Regions from separate parts of the Homo sapiens genome. Here regions 1 and 3 are each linked to region 2. Evidence: fine-mapped expression QTL. A gene starts in region 2. Each other region holds a variant in brackets. All regions are shown on one strand. Distances are from middle to middle.

What was found.
Region 1: its variant is fine-mapped to the expression of ZMAT3 in neutrophils (CEDAR, PIP 0.95).
Region 3: its variant is fine-mapped to the expression of ZMAT3 in whole blood (TOPMed, PIP 0.91).

Annotation. Positions count from the first base shown.
Region 1 is chr3:179,007,079-179,015,279 of GRCh38, reverse strand. No RefSeq gene overlaps it. Among named protein-coding and RNA genes, the nearest start is that of ZMAT3, 61 kb to the left of the region's middle. The variant A/TTA (reference allele first, on the strand shown) is at 3,760.
Region 2 is chr3:179,068,415-179,076,615 of GRCh38, reverse strand. It overlaps ZMAT3 (zinc finger matrin-type 3), which reads left to right and starts at 4,807. Exons shown (of 6, transcript NM_022470.4): 1 at 4,807-5,021. RefSeq lists silencers at 4,381-4,790, 4,931-5,080.
Region 3 is chr3:179,035,890-179,044,090 of GRCh38, reverse strand. All of the region lies in intron 2 of ZMAT3 (zinc finger matrin-type 3), which reads left to right. Among named protein-coding and RNA genes, the nearest start is that of ZMAT3, 32 kb to the left of the region's middle. The variant C/T (reference allele first, on the strand shown) is at 3,705.

The DNA of each region.
Region 1 (8,201 bases), 61 kb after region 2:
TTAAAAACACAATTATATACAAGGGCAAATGTTACCAAACATGGAAATCTTGCTGACATAAAAATTAAACTATAAAATATTAAAATTTTCCCAAACATAGTTTATTTTTGGGGAAAACAATATTTTCTGCTTTAATAAGCTAGCAATGAAGAAAGAGACTTTTTTAAAAAAGTAGTTTTATTAAATATTTCAAACATTCAGAAAAAGTACATACTGGGTAACTGGTCTCAGTTCTGTCACCAGTGTGTTCCCTGGCTTGTCACTTGACCTCTTGAAATTCAGATCCCCATAACTGGGGTATTAGGGGTGGATCTAGTTATTTCTTCTTTATTCCTCTCTTTCAGTACTATGGATAATTTAGAAGATTGCTGTTTTCAAAAAGAATTGTTTTTTTTTTTCGAAATACATAAGTCCTGAACTCACTCCTGAACTCCATGCTGCCATGTCCCCCCTGCCCAGCGGCAATTGATCGCGGTTAGCAGTTTCTTGAGTCTTTTCCAGATAAAGTCTATGTAACGTGAATGGAGGCATTCCATCCCTACTGTTCTGTTCATCACCTTGGGGTATGTGTGTGTGTGTGTATGTGTGTGTGTGTGTGTGTGACCTTGGCAAGCATTCCATACCAGCACATGTGGATCTATTTCATTGTTTTTCATTCTGTGGTGTTTCCTTGTATGATTTCTAAAATTTCTGTTATTGATCCTCTATTGATGGACATTTATGTAATAATAATTTAAAAAAATTAAACCCTTAAAAATAGCAAAACATATAAAATTTACCATTTTAACCATTTAGTTTACAATCATAATCACTCTCCATCTCCAGAAATTTTTTATCTTCCCAAACGGAAATTTTACTCATTAAACAATAACTCCACATTCTCTCTTCCCCAGTCCCTGGTAACCACCATTCTACTTTCTGTCTCTATGATTTTGACTACTTGAGGTACCTCATATAAGTGGAATCATATGACAATTGTCCTTTTGTGTCTGGCGTATTTCACTTGGCATAATGTCCTCAAGGTTCATCCATGTCGTAGTATGTATCAGAATTTCCTTCATTTTTAAAAATTATTTTTAATTAGGGATATATAATATTGTACGTATTTATGGGGTACATGTGTCATTTTGATACAAACATTCAATGTGTAATGATCAAATCAGGGTAATTGGGGTATCTTATCACCTCAAGCATTTATCAACTTTCCTTCCTTTTTAAGGCTGAATAATATCCCATTGCATGTATCGATGACATTTTGTTTATTCATCCACTGATGGACACTTACGTTGCTTCTACCTTTTAGCTATTGTGAATAATGCTACTGTGACCATAGGTGTACATAGCTGAAGACTTGGAAAATTATAAATTATTTTATATATGCAAAGTGTATAAAAGTTTAATTTTTTTCACTGAAGCTTTGATAATTTGAGTCTGTAAAACAAACTGACCATGGATTAACAGGAAAAAAGGCATACAGATTTATTAATGTACATATGGGCATGGGAGTCATACAAAATATGAAAAACTCAAATGTCCAGACAGCTGATGCTGTAAACCAAAAAGTATCTGAGACAGATCTCAATCAACTGAGAGTTATTTTGCCAAGGTTGATGATACACCCAGGAAAAAAAGCCACTAGCCACAATAGAATCTGTGGCCCACACTTTTTTTCCAAAGAGGATTTTGAGTGCTTCCATATTTAAAGGGGAAAACATGGGCAGGAGAGAAAAGAAGTGTAGATGAAAGAGGCAAGAAGTTGCAATCTTTTGAAGATTTCATCAGCGTTCAGTGGATCCACATTTTACATGTGAAAGGAGAGGGTAGAGGCATTTGTCTCATGCTCAGTGAATCTACGTTTTTACATAAGATAAGTAAACAGAATAGAGGAAGCAGTCAAATATGCATTTGTCTCAGGTGAGCAGAGGTATGACTTCTGGTTCTATCCTTTGTCCCGTTCTTCTGAAGATAAATTGTTTGTTATTGTCAGGGTGAAATTCAACAGAACTGTTTTAGGGTAAGGATCTTGAGGGCCCACAAAAAATTTGCTCGTGAGCAAATTGCGAGGGAGGTATGTAGGTAGTCTTTCATCTTTGTAGCTGTTGAGGAACAAAATGGGAGGCAGTTTTGTGTGACTCAGTTCTCAAGCTTGACTTTTTCCCTTAGGTATGGTGAATAGGGGGTCCCAAAATTTTATTTTCCATTCACAACTCTTTAATACTATCTTGAGGTTACAGAAAGAATAGGGGCTTGAAGCTTGTCAAGACAGGTTATGGTGGCATGAGAGGTTATGGGAAGGAGAGAAGAGGCAAGGTGTGCTGCAAAGGTGGTCTTGTTATGCAGATGATCTCACAGGTAGCAGCCCTCAGAAAGGAAAAATGGGAGGCCAGGTACGGTGGCTCATGCCTGTAATCCCAGCACTTTGGGAGACCAAGGCAAGTGGATCACCTGAGGTCAGGAGTTCGAGACCAGCCTGGACAACATGGTGAAACCCCGTCTCTACTAAAAATACAAAATTAGCTGGGTGTGGTAGCGGGTGCTTATAGTCCCAGCTACTTGGGAGGCTGAGGCAGGAGAATAGCTTGAACCCGGGAGGCGGAGGTTGCAGTGAGCTGAGAGCACACCACTGCACTCTAGCCTGGGCGACAGAGCAAGACTCCATCTCAAAAAAAAAAAAAAAAAAAAAAAAGAGATGGGAGCCTGTGGTAGATGTTTCTATAAAACCTTTAAAGGTGTCAGGCTCTCAGTTAATCTTGCCTTGTTCTGGACAAGGTGGGGCTTCAGAAAAAGCCTGTTTGCATCTGTTGTTTACTTCACTTTATTTCCTCTAGAGATGCAAATCCCCGTAAAAGACTCAGCTTTGCAGGCTGATTCTTGTGTTGCAGGCCCTCTGAATAGTCATCTCAAAATATGTCAAAGAAGTATATTTTGGAGTGAAACATTTCTTAGTTTCCTTTAGTCCCCCACTTGAAACTTTAGAACGTTTCGCTTATTAATGTTTGGGCGCAGTGGCTCATGCCTGTAATCTCAACACTTCAGGAGGCTGAGGTGGGTGGATCGCTTGAGCCCAGGAGTTTGAGATCAGCCTGGGAAATATGGCAAAAGCCCATCTCTACAGAAAAAAAAAAAATAATTAGCTAGCCATGGTGGCACGTGCCTGTAGTCCCAGCTATTCAGGAGGCTGAGGTGGGAGGATCACTTGAGCCTTGAGGGGGAGGTTGGAGGATCACTTGAGCCTTGAGGGGGAGGTTGCAGTGACCTGAGGTTGTGCCACTCTATCCTGAGTGACAGAGAGAGACCCTGTCTCAAAAAAAAAAAAAAAACACAGAAGTGTCACTTATTAAAGTAGGATTGGTAGCTATGGAGAGATTTGGGTTAGAAGTTTTGAGATAAGAGGGAGCAAAACAAATTGGGATAAGCAGAAAAGAACAAATATAAGTATGTCATGCCATATCTTCTTGAATCCGTCTCTTAGTTGTGATACTACATCAGTTAAACTGTTGTTTCCCATTGCAACAGGTGGCATTGCAGATGGGCTCTCAAAGTTAGGCCAAACATCTTTGATAAGAGACATTTCTATGAAAACAGAGAAAAATAACGTTAACATTTGGAACAGCCTATAAATTAGTTTCTTTAGAGTCTGGAGGGCAGTCAGTTGAGAAGATGGCCAGATTTGGGTTAGAAACATCTTCAGTTGAAACAGACAGGCAGTGGCAATCTGGCAGATTTTCCTGGGTTGTAGTTTTTTTTTTTTTTTTTTTT[A/TTA]GTTTTTGTGGGTACATAGGTGTATACATGGGGTACATGAGATATTTTGGTACAGGCATGCAATGCATAATAATCACATCATGGAAAATTGGGTATCCATCCCCTCAAGCATTCGTCCTTTGTATTACAAACAATCCAATTATACTCTTTTAGTTATTTTAAAACGTACAGGTAAATTATTATTAACTATAGTCAACCTGGTATGCTATCAAATACTAGGTCTTATTCACTCTTTCTAACTACTTTTTTGTACCCATTAACCATCCCCACTTCCTCCCCTCCCCTCACTACCCTTCCCAGCCTCTGGTAACCATCAGTCTACACTCTATCTCCATGAGTTCAATTGTTTTGATTTTTAGATCTCATAAATAAGTGAGAACATGCATTTATCTTTCTGTGCCTGGCTTATTTCACTTAATATATTGACCTCCAATTCCATCCTTTGTTGTTGCAAATAATAGAATCTCATTCTTTTTTGTGGCTGCAGAGTACTCCATTATGTATAGGTATCACATTTTCTTTATGCATTCATCTATTGATGGACACTTAGGGTGCTTCCAAATTTTGGCTATGGTGAACAGTGCTACAACAAATATGGGAGTACAGATATCTCCTTGATATACTGATTTCCTTTCTTTTGGGTATATGCCCAGCAATGGGATTGCTGGATTGCATGGTAGCTGAATTTTTAGTTTTTTGAGGAATCTCAAAACTTCTTCAAAGTGGTTTTACTAATTTACTTTCCCACCAACAGGGTATGAGCGTTTCCTTTTCTCCAAATCCTCACTGGCATTTGTTATTGCCTGTCTTTTCTATATAAGCCATTTTAACTGGGGTAAGATGATATCTCACTGTAGTTTTGATTTGCATTTCTCTGATAATCAATGATATTGAACACCTTTTCATATGCCTGTTTGTCATTTGTGTTTCTTCTTTTGAGAAATGTTTGTTCAAATCTCTTGCTTATTTTAAATCAGATTATTAGATTTTTTTCCTGTAGAGTTGTTTGAGCTCCTTATATATTCTGGTTATTAATCTTTTGTCAGATGGGTAGTTTGTAAATATTTGCTCTCATTCTGTGGGTTGTCTCTTCACTTTATTGCTTGTTGCCTTTTCTGTACAGAAGCTTTTAAACTTGATGCGATCCTCTTTATCCATTTTTGCTTTGATTGCCTGTGCTTGTGAGGTATTACTCAAAATTTTGCCCAGAACAATGTCCTGGAGAATTTCCCCAGTGTTTTATTGTAGTAAATTCATAGTTTGAGGTCTTAGATTTAAGTCTTTAATCCGGTTTCGTTTGATTTTTATATAACACAAGAGATATAGATAAAATTTGTTCTTCTGCATATGGTTATCCAGTTTTCCCAGCACAATTTATTGAAGAGACTGTCTTTTCTGTAATGTACACTTTTGGCACCTTTGTTGAAAATGTATTCACTGTAGGTGTATGGATTTGTTTCTGGGTTTTCTATTCTGTTCCATTGGTCTATGTGTCTGTTCTTGTGCCAGTACCATGTTGTTTTGGTTACCATAGCTCTGTAGTATAATTTGAAATTAGCTAGTGTGATTCCTACAGTTTTGTTCTTTGCACTCAGGATAGCTTTGGCTAGTCTGGGTCTTTTATGGTTTCATAAACATTTTAGGATTGTTTTTTCTATTTCTGTGAAGAATGTCATTGGTATGTGAATAGGGATTACATTAAATCTGTAGATTGCTTTGGGTAGTGTGGACATTTTAACAATATTGATTCTTCCAATCCATGAACATGGGATTTCTTTCCATTTCTTGGTGTCCAATTTATTTCATCAGTGTTTTATAGTTTTCATTATAGAGATCTTTCACTTCCTTGGTTAATTCCTAAGTATTTAATTTTACGTTTGGCTATCATAAATGGGATTACTTTTTAAATTTCTTTTTCAGATTGTTCACTGTTGGCATATAGAAATGTTACTGATTTTTGTATGTTCATTTTATGTCCTGCAACTTTACTGAATTTATTTATCAGTTCTAATAGTGTTTTGGTTGCGTCTTTAAGTTTTTCCAAATGTAAGATCATATCATTTGCAAACAAGGATAATTTCACTTCTTCCATTTCAATTTGATACCCTTTATTTTTTTCTCATATCCGATCATTCTAGCTAAGACTTTCAGTACTATGTTGAATAACAGTGGTAAAAGTGGGCATTCTTGTTGTGTTCCTGCTCTTAGAGGAAAGGCTTTCATTTCGTTTTTTTATCTGTTCAGTATGATACTATCTGTGGGTCTGTTATATGTAGCTTTTATTATGTTGAGGTGTATTTCTCCTATTCCCAGTTTTTTTGTGAGTTTTTATCATGAAAGAATGTTGAACTTTGTCAAATGCTTGCTCAGCCTCAGTTGAAATAATCATATAGTTTTTGTCTTTCATTCTGATGATATGCTGTATCACATTGATTGATTTTTATATGTTGAGTCATTCTTGCATCCCTGGAATAAATCTCACTTGGTTATGATGAATTATCTTTTTAATATATTGTTGAATTAGGTTTGCTAGTATTTTGTTGAATATTTTTGCATTAATATTTATCAGAGATATTAGCCTGTAGTTTTCTTTTTTTGATGAATTTTGCCTGGTTTTGACATCAGGGAATACTGGCTTTGTAGAATGAATTTGAAAGTATTCCCTCCTCTATAATAGTTTCAGTGGAATTGGTATCAGTTCTCCTTTAAACATTTGGTAGAATTCAGCAGTGAAGCCATTGGATCCTGGGCTTCCCTTACTGGGAGATTTTTTTATTTTTTTTTTTTGGTCTGTTTGGGTTTGGGATTTCTTCATGGTTTAATTTTTATAGGTTGTATGTGTCTAGCGTTTTGCCAGTTTCTTCCATATTTTCCAATTCATTGCCATATAGTTACTCAAACTAGCCACTAATTATCCTTTGCTTTCTGAGGTATCAGTTGTAATATCACCTTTTTCATCTCTGATTTTATTTATTTGAGTCTTCTCTCTTTTATTCTTAGCCTGGCTAAAGGTTTGTCAATTTTGTTTAACTTTTCAAAAAGCCAAATTTTTGCTTCAAAGATCTTTTGTATTGTTTTCTTCACTTCAATTTCATTTATTTCTGCTCTGATCTTTATTATTTCTTCTACTAATTTTGGATTTGGTGTGCTCTTGCTTTTTTAGTTCTTTAAGATTCATTGTTATGTTGTTTATTTGAATTTTTCTACCTTTTTGATGTTTCTGGCTATAAATTTCTCTTTTTGTACCACTTTTGCTGTGTCCCATAGCTTTTGGTATGTTGTGTTTCCATTATCATTTTGTTTCAAGAAAGTTTTCAACTTCCTTCTTAATTTCTTCATTGATCCACTGGTTATTCAGGATCATATTGTTTAATTTCCATGCATTTGTATAGTTTCCAGAATTCCTCCTGTCACTGATTTGTAGTTTTATCCCATTGTTTTTAGAGAAGATGCTTGATATTATTTCAGTTTTTTTGAATGTTTTATGACTTTTTTTGTGACCTAACATATAGTTTATTTTTGAGAATGATCCATGTGCTGAGAAAAAGAATGTGTATTCTGCAGCCATTTGATGACATGTTCCATAAATATCTATTAGATCCATTTGTTTTATGGGGCAGATTAAGTCATATGTTTCCTTGTTGATTTTCTGTACCATGCTAAAAATGGGGCATTGACATCTCCGGCTATTATTGTATTGGAGTCTATCTCTCTTTAGCTCTAATAATATTTGCTTTATATATCTGGGTGCTCCAGTGTTTTGTGCATGTATATTTACTATTGTTATGTCCTCTTGCTGAATTGACCCCTTTACCATTATTATATAATGATCTTCTTTGTTTCTTCCTACAGTTTTTGTCTTATAATCTATTTTGTCTGAAATAAGTGTGACTACTCCTGCTCATTTTTGGTTTCCAATGGCATGGAACAGATTTTTTCATCCCTTTATTTTTCTGTCTATGTGTGTCTTTATAGGTAAAACGTGGTTTTTTTTTTTTTTTTTTTTGTAGGTGACAGATCAATGGGTCTTTCTTTTTTTTAGTTCATTCAACCACTCTGTGTGTTTTGATTGGGGAGTTTAGTCCATTTAATTTACTGTTATTATTGATAAGTAAGGACTCACTCCTGCCAGTTTGTTATTTGTTTTCTGGTCTTCTCTTCCTATTTTCTTTTCTTCTTGTCTTCCTTTTATTGAAGGTGATTTTCTCTGGTGATATTATTTAGTTTCTTGCTTTTTAGTTTCTGTATCTGTTGTATGTTTTTTTGTTTGAGGTTACCGTGAGGCTTGCAAATATTATCTTATAACCCATTATTTTAAGCTGATAAAAATTTAACACTCTTTTCATAAAGAAACAAACCAATGAGCAAAAAGAAAACTGATAAAAATTCTGCACTTTAACTTTGTTTCCATACTTCTTAACTCTTTGTTTTTTATATTTACA
Region 2 (8,201 bases):
TTAGCTCTGAGGTCTGTGTTTCCAGGGTTATTAGTCCTCAAACTTGGCCCAGAAACTAACTTTAATTTTCTTTAAGCTACAGTGCCTGTTATATAACCATTCCATCCACAAGTCCTGTCAAAACTCCCCTCTTACCCATTGCACGAATCCACTCTTAGAAGCGCAAAGCTCCTCTCAGTTTCAGTTACTGTTCTCAAATTGGCTCTCTGAACTTTCCAGTGAGTCCCATCAGCTACAGCTGTCCCTCAGTATGTGGGGGATTGGTTTCAGGACCCTCCAGACCCAGCATACCCAAATCTGCAGCTGCCTTGATATAAAATGTCATAGTATTTGTATATAACATATGTATATCCTCCAGTAAACTTTAAATCATCTCTAGATTGCTATAATAGCTAATACAAAGTAAATGCTCTGTAGATCATTGTTATATTATTTTCAAATTTTTTAAAAAATATTTTTGATCCATAGTTGTGGTTGCAGAACCCAGTGGATATGGAGAGCTGAGAGCACCTTGGTTTTCTTCTGTCAGTTGCCCTGTTGTTTCTCTCTACTTTCTCCTGTTGATGCCACACAGGTCTCGTAGCTATTGGTGGTTTGTCCCCACTCCCTCCTATATTTTGTTATAGTTGGCTATAGGCCTTTGGTTTTGCTATCTATTTTGTGCGCCCCCCCTTTTGTTTTCAGAATACACATTCTTCTCAAGGTCCATTTTTAAAATTAGGGGAATTCAGGGAAAAAAAATTTGCGACTGCTGTTGCCATGTTTCCACTATTTCTTCATATTTTATTTTTAGGCTAAAAAATGTTAGAATATTATTAAAATGCACGAGAGCCTATTTTGCTGGATTTGAGATTTTTGTATTGCTTTACTCTGATTGTAAGGAAGGATTGTGTTGAAAAGCCGAGGTTATTATGAGAGACAATGAATGTTGGAGGCATTCTCTGATGATTTAAAGAAAGAAGTCGGTCTGGAAGACATTATGTGTTATGAAAGAAAAGGTATGTGGAGTCTCAAAGGATGACACAAACTCCCATACAAGAGAGGATCTGACCTGACGAATTGTATCAGTCCCTGGAGAGGGATGTGTGTTTTTCTCCTGATTGTGAGTACATCATGTAGCTTTCTGGACAGATTCCCAAAACCTAAAGCCATGCCACCAAAAGTTAAGTGTGTTAGGACCATCTCCTTGGTAAATAAATACAAATGTAGATTTTCTCAATATACGGTCTAGCATAATGAAAAATAATTATCCTTATTTTAATATGAGAGTTCCTTTCTGATAAATTCAGAGAGTTTCCCACATAATAGTTACATTAAAAAAGGAAACATTGCAGTGAAGTACATAGGCAGGCACTATAATGCCTATTACAGAATGCAGAAAATAAATTCCTCATTCATTCATACATTTATGCAATCAACTATGGTCATCCAAATGTACTGGTTATACTATATCAGGTCATGAAAGTCAGTGTATAAAAACGTTGCTTTTAAAAAAGTAATTAAAATTAGTCTCAATGTTGAGATCCTGTTCTTTTTCAAGAGAGAAACAAATTAGTCAATTCTACATGTATTTCTATTACCCACAAATCTCTCCTGTCTCCAAGTCATTTCTGGCTAATATCTATTCACTTCAAAATGATCTGCTTCCCCTTATTTTTCTGAGGATAACCCTAAAATTTGGGGTGGGGTTGGGTGAAGTGGGGAGGCAGGTGGCAAGAGGAAGTAGACATCAGTGCAAACACGCCTTGGCTTTGACCTCAATAGGCGATGTCTATTTTTTCTCTGCTATCAGATCAGTGCTCTGTTCATTCAGTTCTATCCTTCCCCTTTCCGACCTGTAGGCTCATCAGCCCCCTACAGCTGTCAGCTCCCTTGAATAGTCTCTAATGCCATAAATACTAAAAAAAAAAAAAAAAAAAGTTTAGGGGCATTCCTCTGGCTGAAACAGTTCAGGCTAACATCCTACTCTCTTTTGACTTATTGAGGCAAAACCCTAGACCTTGATTGCTTTTCTGATCCCCACTGGGAATAGAGCTCAGATGCCCCCAATCTCTAGATCTTCACACATGTGGGAATTGTATTATTTCTAGCTCCACAGTTTCTTTCAAAGGAATCCCAACGACTGGGTGTGTGTGGCTGGTGGGTGGGTGGGGATTTATAGGCCTTTCTTTGGGACATACACCAATATCTCTGGGGAGAGAAAATTGGTTCCCCCATCTTTGTGGCAGATTGCATTATTGTTTACAATTAACCACACAACCCCCACTCCAAAAAAATTACAATCCATGCCCATTGCCATGTGATTTGCCTATGAAAGAAGTAGACTTCTCCACTTACTTGGGGTTTGGCCATATGAAAGACCTTGGCCAATGGGATTTGAGTAGACATGTCATGAGACATTAGAGAAGCAGCTTTAAGAGGCTTCACAAGTTTCTAACAGCTTTCTGGCTCTTCCCATCTCCCTTGAGAATTGCCAAGTTCTACATAGGGGCAGCTTCTTCAGCTTGGGCACTGGATTGAGGAGACCCATGGAGCAGAACCTCAGCTGACCCAGCATGTAATACAAATAAGAAATAAACCTTTGTGGCCATCAGCCATTTTTTTTTTTTTCAACCGCAAAAGTGATGAATATATTGTTTGTGGCTTTTTTTCCTTTCACCTCATGTGCTGAAACTCATGAAGTCCAGCCAATTCTAAACTACAAACTCTGACTTATGAGACTACTGTCACTGCCATGAGCTTCAAATATCTATTACACAAGCATCAGATTTGCCTTTTCTTTCTCCCCGAGGCAGGGAAGGAAATGCCCTAGCTGTCTGAGAAGAGTATGTGAGCAGAGAACATGGAATTGTTCAGATTTTCATCCTGATGGACAAGAACACATCAAACTATCAAACATAAAACTTGAAAACTCCAAGACATTTATCCTTCCTGGACTCAAGGTATTTACAGGGCAGAGGAAATATCTCTTAAGTAATTATAATGTGGGACAACAAATAGTGTGTCATCAAGGTGTGCGGAGAAAAGTGCTGTGGGACCTCATGAAAGAAGAGGCCTGGAAGGACAGGTAGGATTTGACAATTCAAGGGGAGGGGAGAGAAAGCATTTTGTATTCAAGATGCAGACAGAGCTAAATTACAGAGGCAGGAAATGAAGGGGCATGGATGGGGGTGTGAGTGAAATGATGAGGGGAGACTGGTGGAAGGTCAGATCGGAAAGGCTCCGCAAGGCCTACTTGTGGTCCTAGATAAGGAGTGTGGACTGTGAAGTTCTAAGACTGGCTAAAGACCATATAGAAAAGGGGCTGGAGAGTGGATTTTAGCAGCATTTATTATTTTAGAAACAATATAGCCCTTTAAAATAGTGACACATAAAGTAAATGTACCTATACAGCTGGAAAAACAATTCAGGTGATGGATTACTCTCCCCAAATGGCTGGTGTACACTGTGTGTATATGTTTGTACTTCATATTCATTGTACTTATGAAGTCTTTTATGGTTTGTTGTTGTTGGTATTGGATTGGTGCATTTTTCAGCCAAAGAAACAGCCTTGATTTCCTGCAGTTGTTTCCCTACTAATAGGGCACATCTTACTATACTTAGATCTCCTTGGCATTTTAATTCGTGTTTTAAAAAATAACCACACAATAATGCAAATGTACTTAATGCCACTGAACTGTACTTTTTTTTTTTTTTTTTTTGAGACGGAGTCTCGCTCTGTCACCCAGGCTGGAGTGCAGCGGCGCGATCTCGGCTCACTGCAAGCTCCGCCTCCCGGGTTCACGCCATTCTCCTGCCTCAGCCTCCCGAGTAGCTGGGACTACAGGCGCCCACCACCACGCCTGGCTAATATTTTTGTATTTTTAGTAGAGATTGGGTTTCACCGTGTTAGCCAGGATGGTCTCGATCTCCTGACCCCGTGATCCACCCGCCTCGGCCTCCCAAAGTGTTGGGATTACAGGCGTGAGCCACCGCGCCCGGCCTGTACTCTTAAAGTAGTATATTTGTTATCGTTTGCCACACACAAAAATAATACCCCAGCAGATCTTCATACGAGTTAATTTACGCTATAAGTTTAGAGCCGGAATTTCCTCAGCTCATCACTCAGTGTTAACATTGAAGATGTCCAGGTTGGTTATGAAGGATGTGACATCCTAGCGTTGGCCACTCTTTTCCTGGTCCTTCCTGTCTTGCAGGTGAGCCTCTGGGGGTCAGGAGAAAGTCTCCTCTATCTCCTGCTCACTTTCGTGTAGGGGAGGGAAGGTGTGTGTGTGGGTGGGTGGGGGCGTTTTGTGTGAGGGAGGCCGATACTGGGCAGGCAGCCACGCTCTTCTTCCTCCATCCTGGGGCGGAAGTGGGGAGAGCAGCAGTTTAAAGGTTCTGTTGCAGCAGTTTAAAGGATCCACTCAGCCGCCTTAACCGCCAACCAGCAGGCTAAGGGAGGAACAGAATGAACAATGTTTGGATCCCAATGACTGGAGATGAAAGTTGCAAAAGCTCTGCCCAGGCTTCTACCAAGGATTAACTTTCCAGGGCATCTGCTGAACTGCTCTTCGGGGCTGTCTGCTGAGATTGGCGGCGGGACCCTCCCGCCTCTCACTCGTGCCTTTGTTCCCCACGCCGGCCTAACCCCGCGCCCCTGCGCTCGCGGCCAGGGCACCTGACCCACGCGCCGCCCGCCGGGGATGCGGGAGCCGCCACTGCTACCGCTGCCACCGCTGCCGGGCCTGCTCCGCCAAGCACATGCGCAGTGGCGACGCCGAGCCGGCGCCCTCAGTCTCCTCCTCCACCGCCTCCCGGTTCCGCAGTCACTTCCTGCAGCTGTTTCCCTGTGGGTCGGGTTGGACTGACTTTTGACAGTCAGCCTTCGGCTGCGGAGGGGGCTCGGCGGCGGCCGGCGGAGAAAGTTGCTCCGAGAAGAGGCTGGGTCGAGCTGGGCCGAGCCGGGCGCGCAGGGCGGGCGTCGCGGGCGTCCCGGGCGGACGCGGCGCGGAGACTGCCGGCGCGTCCCGGGGGTTCCGGTAAGTGCGGGCGATTGGGAGCCGCGGAGCTTTCAGGACGAGCCCCTGGAGCGCCGGGGACTAGCGGTTCCTTTCCGATGCTCTTTCCATCTGCCCTCCACGTGACAGGGCTTGCGCTGCTTCTATTTATCAGTTTGCTTGTTTCAGGCATTTCACGTGGACCAGGTGGATCATCTGTGCGTGCAGCTGCCTTGGCCCTCTCAGTTGCCCCCGCCCCGTGGGAGTCGGGGGATTCCATCCTTCGTGATGGCATCCATACCGGGTTGAGGTGCGTGTGTGGGTTCGTGTGTATGCATGCACATCTTAGGAATGTAAGGTGGATGTGGGCGACGCTGAACTGTCTGTAGCTTTGATTCAAATCTGTAAACAGTTCTCTAGGATTAGGAACCGTCACAGCGGAGACTGAAAAACATTCGCCAATTCACCAAGGCCTCTTCCCCAGTTTTCTGCGTTCTTTTGAGCCTTCTTTATAGGATACACCTTGCCTCAAGTGATTATTATTATTATTTTTTTTAACTTTTCTCCCTCTCATTCCTTCTTGCTGCGTTCTGATGACCTCTGAGTAATGCTCGCTGCCTTTCCCTCATTTCCAGAATTCCCAATTACAGACTTACCTAGTTTGCTGAGGTGCTCCTAACCTGTTCCTTTATTCTATTCTCTTTCCTCTGTAGATTTCTCCAAATGAGACAAGAGATTGTCTTTAACACAGTATGTGAAGAGTAGGCCCCAGTCCAATCATTAAAACTAAGTATGCTATGACAATTAATTTTCTTTAAACAGGGTACCTTGTGAAGCTTTGATTTTCTTTAATGTCGTCTTAGCTCCTTTCCAAACCAGGACATTAACCAGCATAAATCCTTCATTTATGCCATCGCAAGCATCAAAGTGACTGGTTTTTAAGATTTGAAGAATATTTATGCCAGTCTTCAAATTAGTCCCTTTTAAACCAATGCAACAGTTGAACAGATCTGAGTTGCATGTTTTGGGTCTCTGTATTCCATCATTCATGCATTCACTGAAGACTTGGTTTTATTCATTTTAAGATTTATATTTTATACTAATTTTTGTTTGCAAATGTACTAATATTTGATGCAATTGTCATACATAGATTTTTTTGAGGAGTCGACATTGTGTTGATTGTTAAATATAACAAGAAATAAATTTGGGATATCAAGCTACTCTTTAAAAATTGTAAAGATCAAATGTGATAATGGGTAAATCTGTGTTTGGCAAGAATTTTTTCTTTAAATCAGGTAACTGTCACCTCTGGTAGGAGGCCTTTTGTGCCTCTGTTCTTTGAGAAGGATCTTTATTTTGAGGGAAACCTGTAGATAACACTGGGGGAGACACATGCTAGAATTTCCTCAAGTGAAAGTGAGCTTTCATAAAACAAGTCCAGACATGCCTAGGCAATTGGTAGCATTTGATTTTCTGTTTATATTGCTGATTTCCTTTATCCAGAGGTTTTGACACCCCCCCCCACCTTTTCACTAATGAACTAGCAGAATGTTTGTGGCAATTTGACATCAGTAGCTTTTCAACATTATGAATTATTATTATTAGGTAGTTAAACTTTTTAAAAGCTGTTCTTTGTCTACTTAGTTCCGTTTTCTAAAATGACCATATCTGTCTTTGCTTTCTGGACTATCTTTGCTTGATTCAATTAAGAGAAATAATACCATTACAGAGAACCTGACTTTTTAAATGTTAAAACTCTATATTGCTTTTCTTTTATGTTCCCAGAGATATGGGCAGTACACTTCTGCTTAAAAATTAAATAATATTATCATTTTTCTAAATTTTGTGATTAATGAGAAGTATTGTTAAATTCTATGACTAATACTTATGCACTTTGTCCTTAACTACATTATTTTCCCATCACGCTGATTTCCTTTGTTGCCTCCCCACCCCAAATTTCGTCTGAAAGTTGTTACTTGATTTTCAGGTGCTGTGTAGTTATCAAATATGGTAAAATAGACTTTAACTTTTCAAAATTTACTTGATTCATTTTAGTAATTCTATTATTGCCATAATGTACACATTTCCATTGCAGATGGAAAATTTCAGCAGCTTAAAATAGCCATATTCTATTGACCAAGAGAAGAGGTTTTAATAATACTGTATTGAGAGAGTGGAGGGAATTGTGGATTTTGAAATAAGGATTCTAATTTGGGTTAATTAGAATCTTGGGAACTCAAAGGGTGTACTGTGGTTCATTTTGAGACACTCAGGGTTAGACGGCGCCATCTGGGGGGGAGGCAGGAGACATTATGGATAAAGATTGAAGAGGGAGAGGAACATTTTGGGTCTTTTCTGAGGGAATTATAATAGAGACTATCAGTTATTTGTTAAGAAGGAGGAGGGAAATAGCCTCAAGATTGAGGAACTGGAATTATACTGTGGCTTATGGTGGTGTGATCCATTACTCCATTGGACATTTCCTTGATACCTTATTTTGTGTAGGTAATTTACCTAGAGAAGGAGGAAAAATTTGGGTTTTACAGGGGCTGATGAATATAATCTAAGGCTGTATGAGGCAGGGCTGTAAACTCAAGAGCTCACAGAGAACAGGCAAGTAACAAGTACAGGCAGCAGCTGAGTGGGGACTGAGGTGTCCCAGAGAAGGCAGGCCTCGCTAGAGGGCACAGTGCCTCTGAGCACTAACTAGCTAATTGCGTCCCATATAGGAATGTGGGCCAAGTGATGCCAGATCATCCTTTTTCAAGAGAAGCCATGAATCTCTTGATTTTTAAATGCTAACAACTAATTCGACTTAAAAAAATGAAAACAAAACTGTATATTCCAAACAGCACATCTGTGGCTGTATGTGGCCCACAGGCTGTTTGCCACCTCTGCTATACATTTGCTCAACTACTTAAATATTGCTAGTTGATCAGAAGGAACATATTTTATTTATTTCTGTCATACTTTAGGCTACTCCTAGAGTTCCCTGAAATTTTAGCTAGTTCTATAAGTGCTTTAAGAATTCTGCAAGATGATATTCTTTTATACACTCTTTTTGATATTGGTTGGTTGGAAGATATGTTTGCTAAGATTTTTAGCTGGTGGTCTTTTTTTTTTTTGAGTCACAGTCTTGCTCTGTCACCCAGGCTGGAGTGCAATGGCACGATCTCGGCTCACGACCACCTCTGCCTCCCCGGTTCAAGCGATTCTCCTGCC
Region 3 (8,201 bases), 33 kb after region 2:
ATCCTCTCCAGCATTTGTTGTTTCCTGACTTTTTAATGATTGCCATTCTAACTGGTGTGAATCTTCATTGTGGTTTTGATTTTCATTTCTCTGACGACGAATGATGATGAGCATTTTTCCATGTATCTGTTGGCTGCATAGATGTCATCTTTTGAGAAGTGTCTGTTCATATCCTCATATCCTTTGCCCACTTTTTGATGGGGTTCTTTGTTTTTTTCTTGTAAATTTGAGTTCTTTGTAGATTCTGGATATTAGCCCTTTGTCAGATGGGGAGATCGCAAAAATTTTCTCCCATTCTGTAGGTTGCCTGTTCACTCTGATGGTAGTTTCTTTTGCTGTGCAGAAGCTCTTTAGTTTAATTAGGTCCCATTTGTCTATTTTGGCTTTTGTTGCCATTGCTTTTGGTGTTTTAGTTGTGAAGTCTGTGCCCATGCCTATGTGCTGAATGGTATTGCCTAGGTTTTCTTCTAGGATTTTTATGGTTTTAGGTCTAACATTTAAGTCTTTAATCCATCTTGAATTAATTTTTGTATAAGGAGTAAGGAAGGGATCCAGTTTCAGCTTTCTACATATGGCTAGCCAGTTTTCCCAGCACCATTTATTAAATAGGGAATCCTTTCCCCATTTCTTGTTTTTGTCAGGTTTGTCAAAGATCAGATGGTTGTAGATGTGTGGTGTTATTTCTGAGGCCTGTTCTTTTCCATTGGTCTATATGTCTGTTTTGGTACCAGTACCATGCTGTTTTGGTTACTGTAGGCTTGTAGTATAGTTTGAAGTCAGGTAGCATGATGCCTCCAGCTTTGTTCTTTTGGCTTAGGATTGTCTTGGCAATGCGGGCTCTTTTTTTGGTTCCATATGAACTTTAAAGTAGTTTTTTCCAATTCTGTGAAGAAAGTCATTGGTAGCTTGATGGGGATGGCATTTAATCTATAAATTACCTTGGGCAGTATGGCTATTTTCACGATATTGATTCTTCCTGTTCATGAGCATGGAATGTTCTTCCATTTGTTTGTGTCCTCTTTTATTTCCTTAAGCAGTGGTTTGTAGCTCTCTTTGAAGAGGTCCTTCACATCCCTTGTAAGTTGGATTCCTAGGTATTTTATTGTTTTCGTAGCAATTGTGAATGGGAGTTCACTGATGATTTGGCTCTCTGTTTGTCTGTTATTGGTGTATAGGAGTGCTTGTGATTTTTGCACATTGATTTTGTATCTGAGACTTTGCTGATGTTGCTTATCAGCTTAAGGAGATTTTGGGCTGAGACAATGGGGTTTTCTAAATATACAATCATGTCATCTGCAAGCAGGGACAATTTGACTTCCTCTTCTCCTAATTGAATACCCTTTATTTCTTTCTCTTGCCTGATTGCCCTGGCCAGAACTTCCAACACTATGTTGAATAGGAGTGGTGAGAGAGGGCATCCTTGTCTTGTGCCAGTTTTCAAAGAGAATGCTTCCAGTTTTTGCCCATTCAGTGTGATATTGGCTGTGGGTTTGTCATAAATAGCTCTTATTATTTTGAGATACGTTCCATCAATACCTAATTTATTGAGAGTTTTTGGCATGAAGGCTGTTGAGTTTTGTCAAAGGCCTTTTCTGCCTCTATTGAGATAATCATGTGGTTTTTGTCATTGGTTCTGTTTATGTGATGGATTATGTTTTTTGATTTGTGTATGTTGAACCAGCCTTGCATCCCAGGGATGAAGCTGACCTGATCATGGTGGATAAGCTTTTTGATACGCTGCTGGATTCGGTTTGCCAGTATTTTATTGAGGATTTTCGCATCCATGTTTATCAGGGATATTGGTCTAAAGTTCTCTGGTTTTTGTTGTATCTCTTCCAGGCTTTGGTGTCGGGATGATGTTGGCCTCATAAAATGAGTTCCCTCTTTTTATTGATTGGAATAGTTTCAGAAGGAATGGTACCAGCTCCTCTTTGTACCTCTGGTAGAATTCGGCTGTGAATCTGTCTGGCCCTGGACTTTTTTTGATTGGTAGGCTATTAATTATTGCCTCAATTTCAGAGCCTGTTACTGGTCTATTCAGAGATTCAACTTCTTCCTGGATTAGTCTTGGGAGGGTGTATGTGCCCAGGAGTTTATCCATTTCTTCTAGATTTTCTAGTTCGTTTGCGTAGAGGTGTTTATAGTATTCACTGATGGTAGTTTGTATTTCTGTGGGATCGGTGGTGACATCCCCTTTATCATTTTTTTATTGCATCTATTTGATTCTTCTCTCTTTTCTTCTTTATTAGTCTTGCTAGTGGTCTCTCAATTTTGTTGATCTTTTAAAAAAAACAGCTCCTGGATTCAGTGATTTTTTGAAGGGATTTTTGTGTGTCTGTCTCTTTCAGTTCTGCTCTGATCTTAGTTATTTCTTGCCTTCTGCTAGCCTTTGAATTTGTTTGCTCTTACTTCTCTAGTTCTTTTAATTGTAATGTTAGGGTGTCAATTTTAGATCTTTCCTGCTTTCTCTTGTGGGCATTTAGTGCTATAAATTTCCCTCTACCACACTGCTTTAAATGTGTCCCAGAGACTCTGGTACGTTGAGTTTTTGTTCTCATTTGTTTCAAAGAACATCTTTATTTCTGCCTTCATTTCGTTATTTACCCAGTAGTCATTCAGGAGCAAGTTGTTCAGTTTCCATGTAGTTGTGCAGTTTTGAGTGAGTTTCTTAATCCTGAGTTCTAATTTGATTGCACTGTGGTCTGAGATGCAGTTTGTTGTGATTTCTGTTCTTTTACATTTGCTGAGGAATACTTTACTTCCAATTATGTGGTCAATTTTAGAATAAGTGTGATGTGGTGCTGAGAAGAATGTATATTATGTTGATTTGGGGTGGAGAGTTCTGTAGATACCTATTAGGTCTGCTTGGTGCAGAGCTGAGTTCAAGTCCTGTATATGCTTGTTAACCTTGTGTCTCATTAATCTGTCTAATATTGACAGTGGGATGTTAAAGTCTCCTATTATTATTGTGTGGGAGTCTAAGTCTCTTTGTGGGTCTCTGAGGACTTGCTTTATGAATCTGGGTGCTCCTGTATTGGGTGCATATATATTTAGGATAGTTAGCTCTTCTCATTGAATTGATCCCTTTACCATTATGTAATGCCCTTCTTTGTCTCTTTTGATCTTTGTTGATTTAAAGTCTGTTTTATCGGAGAGTAGGATTGTTACCCCTGCTTTTTTTTTTTTTTTGCTTTCCATTTGCTTGGTAGATCTTCCTCCATCCCTTTATTTTGAGCCTCTGTGTGTCTTTGCACATGAGATGGGTCTCCTGAATACAGCACACTGATGGGTTGTGACTCTTTATCCAATTTGCCAGTCTGTGTCTTTTAATTGGGGCATTTAGCTCATTTACATTTAAGGTTAGTATTGTTATGTGTGAATTTGATCCTGTCATGATGTTTGCTGGTTGTTTTGCCCATTAATTGATGCAGTTTTTTCATAGCATCGATGGTCTTTATAATTTGGCAGTTTTTGCAGTGGTTGTTACCGGTTGTTTCTATGTTTAGTGCTTCCTTCAGGAACTCTTGTAAGGCAGGCCTGGTGGTGACAAAATCTCTCAGCATTTGCTTGTCTGTAAAGGATTTCATTTCTCCTTCACTTATGAAGCTTAGTTTGGCTGGATATGAAATTCTGGGTTGAAAATTCTTTTCTTTAAGGAAGTTGAATATCGGCCCCCACTCTTTTCTGGCTTGTAGGGTTTCTGC[C/T]GAGAGATCCGCTGTTAGTCTGATGGGTTTCCCTTTGTGGGTAACTCGACCTTTCTCTCTGGCTGCCCTTAACATTTTTTCCTTCATTTCAACCGTGGTGAATGTGACAATTACATGTCTTGGGGTTGCTCTTCCCAAGGAGTATCTTTGTGGCATTCCCTGTATTTCCTGAATTTGAATGTTGGCCTGCCTTGCTAGGTTGGGGAAGTTCTCCTGGATAATATCCTGAAGAGTGTTTTCCAACTTGGTTCCATTCTCCCTATCACTTTCAGGTACACCAATCAAACGTAGATTTGGTCTTTTCACATAGTCCCATATTTCTTGGAGGCTTTGTTCATTTCTTTTTACTCTTTTTTTCTAACCATGTCTTCTTGCTTTATTTCATTAATTAATTTGATCTTCAATCACTGATACCCTTTCTTCCACTAGATCGAATTGGCTATTGAAGCTTGTGCATGTGTCACGAAGTTCCCATGCCATGGTTTTCAGCTCCATCAGTCATTTAAGGTCTTCTCTACAGTGTTTATTCTAGTTAGCCATTCGTCTAACCTTTTTTCAAGGTTTTTAGCTTCCTTGCGATGGGTTCGAACATGCTCCTTTAGCTTGGAGAAGTTTGTTATTACTGACCTTCTGAAGTCTACTTCTGTCACCTCGTCAGAGTCATTCTTTGTCCAGCTTTGTTCCATTGCTGGTGAGGAACTATGATCCTTTGGAGAGGAGGCACTCTGATTTTTAGAATTTTCAGCTTTTCTGCTCTGGTTTCTCCCCATCTTTTTGGTTTTATCTACCTTTGGTCTTTGATGTTGGTGACCTACAGATGGGGTTTTGGTGTAGACGTTCTTTTTGTTGATGTTGATGCTATTCCTTTCTGTTTGTTAGTTTTCCTTCTAATAGGTCCCTCAGCTGCAGGTCTGTTGGAGTTTGCTGGAGGTCCACTCCAGACCCGGTTTGCCTGGGTATCACCAGCGGAGGCTGCAGAACAGCAAATATTGCAGAACAGCAAATATTGCTGCCTGATCCTTCCTCCGGAATCTGCATCCCAGAGGGGCACCCATCTATATGAGGTGACTGTTGGCCCTTACTGGGACGTGTCTCCCAGTTAGGCTACATGGAGGTCAAGGAGCCACTTGAAGAGGCAGTCTGTCCATTCTCAGAGCTCAAACACCATGTTGGGAGAACCACTGCTCTCTTCAGAGCTGTCAGAAAGGGACATTGAACTTTGCAGAAGTTGTCTGCTGCCTTTTGTTCAGCTAAGCCCTGCCCACTGAGGTGGAGTCTGGAGGCAGTAGGCCTTGTTGAGCTGTGGTGGGCTCTGCCCAGTTCGAGCTTCCCAGCCACTTTGTTTACCTACTCAAGCCTCAGCAATGGCTGAGGCCCCTCCCCCAGCCAGGCTGCTGCCTTGCAGTTTGATCTCAGACTGCTGCGCTAGCAGTGAGTGAGGCTCTGTGGACGTGGGACCTGCCAAGCCAGGCACGGGAGAGTATCTCCTTGTTTTCCGGTTGCTAAGACCTTGGGAAAAGCGCAGTATTTGGGCAGAAGTGTCCTGTTTTTCCAGGTGCAGTCCGTCACGGCTTCTCTTGGCTAGGAAAGGGAAATCCCCTGACCTCTTGGCTTCCCGGTTGAGGTAACACCCCACCCTGCTTCAGTTCGTCCTCTGTGGGCTGCACCCACTGTACAACCAGTCCCAGTGAGGTGAACCAGGTACCTCAGTTCAAAATGCGGATATCACCCGTCTGCTGCATTGATCACGCTGGGAGCTGCAGACCAGAGCTGTTCCTATTTGGCCATCTTGTATTTTATTTTATTTTTTGAGACAGGGTCTCGCTCTGTCACCCAGCTGGAGTGTAGCATTGCAGTCATGGCTCACTGCAACCTCAACCTTCTGGGTTTAACTGATCCTTCCATCTCAGTGCTCCCAGCAGCTGGGACCATAGGTTTGCACCACCATGCCTGCCTCATTTTTCTTTTTTTAGAGATGGGGTTTTGTCATTTTGCCCAGTTTGGTCTCAAAGTCTTAGACTCAAGTGATCCTTCTGCCTCAGCCTCCCAAAGTGCTGGGATTATAGGCATGAGCCACTGTGCCTGGCCCTAGTTCCATGGTTTTAAATTCCACCTACATACTGATAACTCCTCAGATTCTATCTCTAACCTGACCTCGTTCGTAAACTCCAGGTTGGTCTCTCTTTGGACATCTGAAAGGGATCTCAGACTTAACACAGCAAGTGGGTCTCTTGATGCCCAGCTCTTCCCCCTTTCTCTACATTGCATGGCTGGAGCCATCTCATGCTTCAGCTTTTAGCTGACATGTATCTCCCCAGAAAAGCCTTGTCGGCCCACCCCACTCTCTCCCTGTCCATTATCTATTATATCATCCTGTTTTATTTTTTGCAGAGCAGTTGTCAGTAACTCTTTTTTCTTTGGTTGTGTGTGTGTACATATATATATGTACATGTATATATTCTGTTTATGTCCCCTAGAAAAGCTTCTTGAGGGCAGAGACTTTGCCTTTGTTCACTGTTTTATCTCCTTTTCTTAGAATGGTTGCCAGAACATAGAGGGTAGTCAGTAACTATTTAACCCTGTTATCTTCCGCCAGAGTTGTAGATTCAAATTCTCACCTGTTTTTAGAAGACTTCTAAACCTTCTTAGCCTTGACTTCCTTAGTGCTAATGTTGCAGCTTTTGTAGTTCAGCAAGCGGGAGGAAATGGCACACTGGCTTTTTTTCCCCGTTGCTCAGTGAGCAGGAGGGAGGGTTGCAGTGTAAGGATTCCTTTGGTGCTGCTTCACCAGCCGGAAATCTCTGTGGGTGCTGTGTCCTCTGCCTGGGGCCTCATTCCACCGAGCTCACTCCGCCCACTCAGCCTGGCAGGCTGTGCTCGGCTTGTGCCTTGGCCTGGATCCTGCGCCCGCTGAGGGATCTGCACTCAGCCCATGGCTCCACTGGGTGTGTTGCCAGCAGCTTCTGCATTGGGTGTCGTTGTCTAGATGAGGGGAATGTGGGTGGTGCCCGAAAACTCAGAGATGTCAGTAATGGCAGAGTCCCAAGGGGTGTTACAGCTCTCATCCGGGGAGTCCCAAGATTTGACCTCCCAAGAAATGTTGCAGCTTTGTATTGTTCCTGCCACCTGCAGCTTGGCGAACAGGGGCATGTTACAGCTCAGTCGGTCCCACCACCCGCAGCTCAGTGAATGGGTGTGTGTTACAGGTTGGCCTATTCTGGGTTCTTCTCCTGCGACCAAGAGGAATAAGAGGAATAAGGTACATGGACACTGGAGAGTGAATAGGGTGGAGAAGAATTTCATTGAGCAATAGAAGGAAAGCTCTCAGCAGAGAGGGGGCCCAAGAGTGATTAGCCCTGTGTGTGAGAGGGGACCCAAAAGAGGTTTGCCATCTGTGGGGTTGAGTCTGGGATTTTTATGGGCTCAGAATGGGGGAGTGCGTGCTGATTGGTTCACGGGTCGGCTTGGAAAAAGCACCATTTGATTGCCTAAAAGGCATCGAGGAAGTTCTCACTCTCGTTGTGGACTCCACCTGCAACTGGCAGCTCAGTTTTCAGTCTTTAAACTGTCTTTGGCATGAGGTTGGGTTTCACAGGGACCCATCCCTGTCTGCCTAGGAATTTGTCTGTCTCCAGTTGCTGTCACTAAGCCACACATTGCACTGTCTCTTGGATTCATTAAGATGTCTTTCGGTTGTCTCAATCTCATATTGAGATTGAGATTGTTGACTCTATCTTCTTCCCCAAAGCCTTTTTTCCTCCCCACACCTTTAAAAATTTTTCATAAATATTTCCATCTACCCTGCGGTTCACCTCCCTTCTACCCTCTTATCCAATATGCTATTACTTGTTCTTACCTTCTTCATAGTTCCTGCGTCTTTCTCCTTTATCTAGCCATTATCTTGCTTGAGGCCCATTTTGCAAGCTGTTATCTGTCTCCACTCTGTCTAGGTGATAGTTTTTGGCTCCATAGCTTTAAATACCATCCACATTCAGATCATTCCTGAGAGTCTGTCTTCATCCTGACCACACTCTTGAACTCCAGTTTGGTTGTGGGCTTCTATGATAACATACTATCTGATTTTTATCTTACTTTTTGGCTAGACCTTGTCAATCTCATTTTCTGGATCTTCATTCTCTACTAGACTCTATGTTGTAGTGTCTAGGATTTTGTCCTTGACTCTCCTCTGTGTATCTTCCCAGCTTCCAGCTTTGGTCTGCTACCCTGATGCTCATCTTTATCAAATACAATCAAGTCATGCACTGCTTTGCTTAAAGTTCCTCAGAGGCTCCCTGCTGCCTCTGAAGTCCAAGTTCTTTATCATGGGCAAAGGCATTAAGAATGAGCCCCCTGTGTATTTCAATTTTTGCCTCTCCTCCAAAGGATCTAGAAGACCGTTATCTCTCCTTGTAGCCCCTCAACACAGAAGGCTGGGCTTTTGCTCATGCTATTTTCTTGGTGCACAGTTTTCTTTTTCCGTATTGCTTACCTCCCCTG